Linked DNA regions of Homo sapiens. The protein of the gene in region 2 interacts with the protein of the main gene of each other region in a pairwise test. Each region holds a gene or a part of one and is shown on either strand. Other genes may lie near its edges.

Evidence for each region.
Region 1: the proteins of STOM (region 2) and CNIH3 interact in binary tests that used the Homo sapiens proteins (3 or more experiments, as listed by UniProt).

What each region holds. Positions count from the first base shown.
Region 1 is NC_000001.11:224,734,817-224,738,316, reverse strand, and holds part of CNIH3 (protein cornichon homolog 3), read right to left. Parts: intron 1-3,500. UniProt on the Homo sapiens protein: Regulates the trafficking and gating properties of AMPA-selective glutamate receptors (AMPARs).
Region 2 is NC_000009.12:121,342,751-121,346,250, forward strand, and holds part of STOM (stomatin), read right to left. Parts: intron 1-3,500. UniProt on the Homo sapiens protein: Regulates ion channel activity and transmembrane ion transport. Regulates ASIC2 and ASIC3 channel activity.

The DNA.
Region 1 (3,500 bases), on a different chromosome or scaffold from region 2:
CAGTGCTTTTTGCATAACAGTACTAAGCCTCAAGTGGATACCTTTGTTTACTCACTTTCATTCGTTATGCCAGACACTATTCTCAGTGCTGGGGAAAATGGTGAGTGTGCAGCCCCAATTCCTGCCTTGAGGAAGCATACAGCTAAGCTGTAACAACAAACCACGAGGATTCAGTGAGTGCCAGGCACGGGCCAGGACACTGCAGACGCAGAGGTGAATGAAACCAACATGGTCTCCAGTGTCAAGGAACAAGTAAATCATAAATAACATAGATGGAGAGAAATAAACCTGAGGAGGAACAGGCATGATCCAGAATAACCACGCAGGAGGGTGGTCCTACTACTTCAGGTCGGAAAAAAATCTTTCTACAGAGCAGACACTGTTCACACTGGGCTCACTAGCTAGTATTAGTATCTGCATTAGCTAGTCCCCTTCTAACACAACCCTCAAATATCACCTGGTCCACAAGGCAACCTGAGAAGTGGGGTGATGGGTGCCATGCGGTTCAAACAGGATAGAAGAAAGAGCACAGGCTCTGAAGCCAGATGTTGCTAATTATTAGCAGGGACCTGAGACACATTTCTTAACCTCTCCGAAGTCCTCAGGAGCCCCTCAGGGAGCTCAAACTATAAACTATCAACCCCGTCTTCCCCGCTGTTGTGTGGGTCTCTAGCCCTGAGCTCAGTTCAGACATGGCTCTGCATACACGAGTCCCCTTCCCTCCCTCCCACGGTGGCCTGCGCTGACGCTGCTGTGCTCTCCACCAGCTCCGGATCTGAGGGGCTGGCAGCTCCTAAGGTGGGAGAAACAGAGTCTTTTAAGCAGCCCCAAAGAGCACCAAGGGGCCAGATTCAACAAAGAATGTGGGTGCCCGTGGCGGCCACCCAGGGTCCCAGTGAGGCTGCAGGAACTGTTTCCAATTTTGTTTTAGAAACAGAGTGATTAACACATGTATCATGAAGGCAGGGCCAAACTGAAGTAATGAATTAGAGGACAAACAGTCAAACAGACTGTCTGGAACACACTCGGTTACAGAACAATCACACCCATCTAACCGAGAGGAGCTGCCAAGACCTCCCTACCCCACCCCCTCCCACCCCCGCAGCGGAGCACGCACAGCCGCTTCCCTCCCTGTGAACTCATATGGCTTCTTCCCTGCGACGCCTCGGCTCCAGCAGTTACTGCAACAAAACTGAAATGAGGGAAAGTCTCGCCTCTGTCTTCATCCACACTGAGGTGGATCCCAGGCTAAAGGGGCAGGAGCTAATGAAAACAATGGTCTCATTCTGTTGGCTTAGAGGAGAGACAGTGCTGTCTCTGGGGACAGGCCACTCAGCCCATGACTCTGCAGAAGGGGAAGTCTGTGGCTCCACAAAGAAAGCAGGGTTGAGCACACTGCAGGGAAAAAACCTAACCTCCAAGGTGGCAAGTCCCTAAGCCCACGGCGGCTTTGTCCACACTCTGTAGGTCTCCCAAGACAGAAACCCATCTGACAAGCCTTTGGTTGTTAAATAGTTCAGACTTGGAGTCAGAAAGACTTAGGTGAACCCACTGGGCACCGTAGAAATCTCCGGAGGCTTCAAAGACCGTCAGGCTCCCTGCAGGCTGGAGCAGTAAACATCCCAGAGCACCCCACAGAGTCTGCGGACACTGGGGATGTAAAGGGGAGGGAAGGCAGAACCAAGTAGAATGCTCCAGAGCCACCAAGGTGTGCACCAAGATTGTCCAGAGAGCTTGTTTAAAACGCAGAGCCCAGCCCTGGAAAGTTTGAATAGGTAGCTATAAGCCCAGGAATCTGCATTTTTAAAAAGCACACCTTCCTCCCTTCCTTACCCCACACTTTGATGAAGACTTTTCTAGAGGTTTTCTAAGATAGCCAGCAGTTAAGAGCTACTGGGCACGGTGGCTCACGCCTGTAATCCCAGCACTTTGGGAGGCTGAGGCGGGTAGATCACATGAGCCCAGGAGTTCAAGACCAGCCTGGGCAACATAGCAAAACCCTGTCTCTACAGAAAAATACAAAAATTAGCCGAGCATGGTGGTACATGCCTATAATTCCAGCTACTCAGGAGGCTTAGGCAGGAGGATCCCTTGAGCCTGGAGTTCAAGGTTGCAGCAAGCTATGATCCTGCCATTGTAGTCTAGCCTGGGAGACAGAGTGATACCCTCAAAAAAAGAAAAAGGAAAAAGGAGTTCAGTCTTTGAAATCGGACTCAAGATGTACTACTTACAGCTGTGACACTAATAGCTGGAATTCAGGAAAATTATCTAACTTCTCAGATTCAGTTCATTTTTCATATGTGAGTGAGGATAGTATTTATCTTATAAATTGAGCGATACGTACAAAGCTCTGAGCACAAAGCCTGGCTCATTTTTAAATGTCAGAACTTTGGGAGGCTGAGGCAGAAGGGTCACTTGGGCCCAAGAGTTCAAGACCTGCCTGGGCAACACAGTGAAACCCCATCTCTACAAAAAATTTTAAAATTAAAAAAAAAAAATATAGCCGGGCATGGTGACACACACCTGCAGTCCCAGCTACTCAGGTTAAGGTGGGAGAATCACTTGAGCCAAGTTCAAGGCTGCAGTGAGCAGCGATGGCACCACTGCACTCCAGCCTGGGCAAAACAGTGAGACCCCATCTTTAAATAAAAATTAAAAAATAATAAAAAATAAAAAATGCTGGACAAATGCAGCCACATTCTGGCCTGCCACAGCCCAATCCAAACCTAGGGGTGGCGTGCAGTCCAACATCCCGACCCCTCCTCCTCTTCACCTGGCTGCTGTCAACCATGCCCTTTTGGAGACATCACCGGGAGGTTTGGAGATCACCATGGCCCTGCCACAGGTAATGATGGAATCGCAAGTGACAGGTGAGAGTCCCCAGAGATGAGCCAAAGAGGAGCAGGAAGGAGGAGGAGACATTTGCGGAAAAGGCACTCTCTGTGGTGTCAAACCACAAGACAGTCTGTTTATAGCTATCTGCTTAGTTAGGATGTTCTGAGCGGAGAGGTGAAAAGAAGGGACACTCCTGAAACAGGACTGCAAAGTCAGCAGGTTTTTCTTAATTGGAATGGTGTTATGTAATATTGGGAAAACTGTAAATGAAGCATTTAGCGACACAAAATGCCACTTTATGAACCGTGACAGCCACTGTGGGGCTGGGGTGGGGAGTTTGGGGCCTCTGTTATGGTTCCCAAGAATCCTTGGGGCAAGGGACAGTGAGGATGAGCCTGAGCCCCTGTGGCCACAGGCAACCTGCTGGGCTGAGCTGCAAAGTCGTGAGAGGCAGGAAGCCCTATAGGGAAGAAGGAGTAGCCAACTGCACTTCACCAGTTATCTCCAAAGGGATGTTGAGAGGGTGTTTTCACTGCGTGGCCCTAAGGATGTGCCGATCAGCAGGCAAGGCCTCCTGCAGGATCTCCTGCCCCCTTACTTGTTTATACAGAAGCCCTTGCTCCTGAGCCAGAGTCAGACAGCTGGGACTACACCTGAATGGCCAT
Region 2 (3,500 bases):
AGTACATAAATTCAAGATGAAAAATTTTTACATGCCGATTTAAAATGTTTGATGGACTTTATAGTTTTTCTAAATTCTGTAAGGGGTTTCACAGGCAAAAAAGTTTGAAGATCACTCGAGTAGTAGACAGAACAGGAGTTCTGGAGTCAAATGGACTTGAGTTCAAATCCCAAATCTAACATTTACCAGCCGAATGTCCTCAGAGAGGTTACTGAACATCCTGAACCTCAGTTTCCCATTCTTAAAGCAGACTAACATGTACTTCAGAGGACCACTTGTGAGGAAGACAGAGAAAGTATATAAAGTGTTAAATGAATAAAGGGGGCTATTATAGAGGAATGGCAAGTGACAAGACCTGATTTTTGGGTCCAACTATGCTTTAATGCACAAAAGATTCAAGGTAGTTACTTTAATTCATAATCCTAGAAGAAGGAAAGGTATTAAGACACCATAATTATCAAGATTAAAAGTACAATTTCTCCAGGTTATTATCCTCACTTGAATCTTGAATAATTAATGGTCCATAATACTCCATGAATATCAGAATTGGAGGTGATGGTCTTATGCCCAGTGAGATTTCATTCACTCACACAGCAAAATTTGGGGGCCTTCTAGGGTTAATAAGCCCTGTGTAGGAAAAGCTAAGGATAGAGTGGAATCCCTAGCCTTCTTCAGCTCCTGGTCAGGTAGGGAAGGCAGACATGGAAGTAGATCATTTCATTCTAGTGTGATAAATGCTGACAGACATATGTACAAGGCACAGTGCAAGCAAACAGAAGAAAGCAACTTTTCCAGAGGGTGACGTGGTGAGGTTATAGAAGTTGAATATTAAATGATAAAATGTTTGCTGTTTAGAAAAAGATGAGGAAGAATATTTTGGGCAGAACACATGAAACGGTACTGAGGTATAAAAATGGTATATTCCAGAAAACTGTCAATGGCTGAATACTATGGCAGGAAGAGGGGAAAGGTGGGGGATGAATGGGGCCGGGTTCTGAAGGGCAGTGAGGGCCAGGGTGTTTGGTCTTCATTCTGTAGGCAATGGGAAGCTGCAGAATGATTTTAAGCAGGTAAGTAAACTCCATCAGATCTAGTTTGAAAAAGCTCTCTGACAGATGTCTGAGGTTAGAAGAGAAGGCAGTGAAAGCTGCTAGTGGAACTGCTTTAGAGTGGCCGGTGCGATTCATAGGTGGTGGGGACAGAGAATGAAATGGTTTGGGGAGCTATTCTCCCTCCCCGAAGGAGGGCGAATCAGTGGAATTTGGAGACTAGGTAGGAGGAGGAAAGGGGGACACAGGCTGAGACCCAGGTTTCCAGGTTTTGGTTGCATAGATTAGTGCCATTAATGGAGATAGGATACAGAATATAGTACTCACTGAGAGAAAGGATCCAGCTTATAGGATAAAAACCTTAATTTATCAAAGCCACACATCATGTCCTGCCTAGGTCTGTGAGAAGGGACAAGTGCCAGCTTTGCTCAAAGAAAACCACAGAACTGTATTCCAAGGTAGGCACTACAGAGAATACATCAGAAATCCCCTGCTATGAGAGCAGCAGGCTCTCATTTTTTCCATATCATCTCAGATGTCCAATTAGGCACTTTTTTCTTTGGACATGGACCAACTGAAAAGATATCTCATTTCCCACCACCAATCAATACACAATCGCTTGGCTGAGAAGCCAGACCCACCGGGCTGGGCACACATTTTGTTCATAGAAAAGCCACACTGAGCAAGCTGCCAAAGATGTAAACAACACCACCGGCTTTGTCTAAATACAGGCCAAGTACACTCCGTTGATAGGATCTTAGAGAGCAAAGCAAGCTATTTGTGGGTGTGCACGGCTTTTGTCGAATGTGCAGTAATCTCATAGCAATCAACATTTCATATTTATAGAACATCATTTTAAAGTCTGGCATTTTCATGTATGTGAAATTGGTGCTACCTGTCCCTTCTGCAGACCAGGTGGTCTGGGCAGAGGAAAAGGCAGAGAAAGGTGATCTGTATTTCTGCACTCCATCCTCTCAATTAATAGACTTCTACACCCAGAAACATGAGCCCAAAAGCATGTGCCAGGTGTTTTTCTGAGAGTTATGAAAAGGAAATAAAAGCTGATGCAAACACAAAAGATATTACATTTCAGGCCACTAAGAGCTGGTCTAAACACTTTAAAAACCAAACCTAACATACAGAGAAACACGTAGGAGAATCTGTCCTCTTCTGTGACCGGCTTCTTTCACTCAAATTATGTGTGTGAGCACTTACATTCATTCTCTTTGCTATGTAGTATGCCTACATGTGAATAAACCAGACTTCATTCATTCAGCTAGGAATGGACATTTGGGTATTCTACAGTTTGGGTCAATGTGCTGCTGTGAACATTCTAGTACATGCCTTTTGGTAAACATATGAGTGCATTTCTGTTAGATTCATACTTAGGAGTTGGAGCTGCTGGCTCATAGGGTATACAAATGTTCAGTATGAATAGACATTGCCAGACTGTTTTCCACAGTGGTTGTATTAAGTTACACTGCCACCAGCAGAATATGAGAGTTCTAGTTCCTCTCTCACCCACACTTGGTTCTTTTCCGTTCTTTTCAGGCCATTCTGATAGCTGTCTAGTGTGACATCCGCTTATAATGTGAATTTGCATTTCCCCGATGGCTAATTAGCCTAAGGAATTTTTCTATAAAGTCTCTTAATCTTTAGATTATTCCACTCTATCTCACCTTTCCTGTGCAATTTATTTGTTGAAGAAACTGTGACCCCCCTATTTTCCATGAGAATTTCAATACAATAAGCCTATGGTTGTTGCAGGGTTACTGTATTTTACAGAAGGGCTAGGCTCATTGTGATTCTATGTGTGAACTCCAAGACAGTCACTGCCCAGGTTCATGAGACTGCTTCTAGACTAACCCTACAGCCCCGTCCAAGTGGGAGCATGGCAATTCAGAATTCTAAGCGGTTTCTTCTATCTTTTCTTACTGTTATAAAGGGAAGATAGAAATTTTCTTTCCAAACTCTTAAGAATGCTATGGAAGAGGCTCATAGCCCATCCTGGGAAGTCAGTACTAGAGGAGGCAATGAGGAGCAGAGGGGAATTCTAATTTCCACTGCTACTAATCAACTGTGCGACCTTGCGGACGTCACTTAACTTTTCAGAGCTTCAATTTTTCCTTTGAATAGTGGGATGGCAAACAAGTTTCATTTTTTTTTAAGTTTTTATTATTATTAATTTTTTATTTAATTTAATTTTTTTGAGAAGAAGTCTTGCTCTGTCGCCTGGGCTGAAGTGCAGTGGCGCAATCTCAGCTCACTGCAACCTCCACCTCCAGGGTTCAAGCAATTCTCCTTCTCAGCCTCCCCAGTAGCTGGGATTACAGGCGCCTACCACCACACCAGGCTACTCTTTGTATTTTTAGTAAGGACGGGGTTTCACCATGGTGGCCAGGCTGGTCTTGAACTCCTCACCTCAGGTGATCCACCCACCTCAGCCTCCCA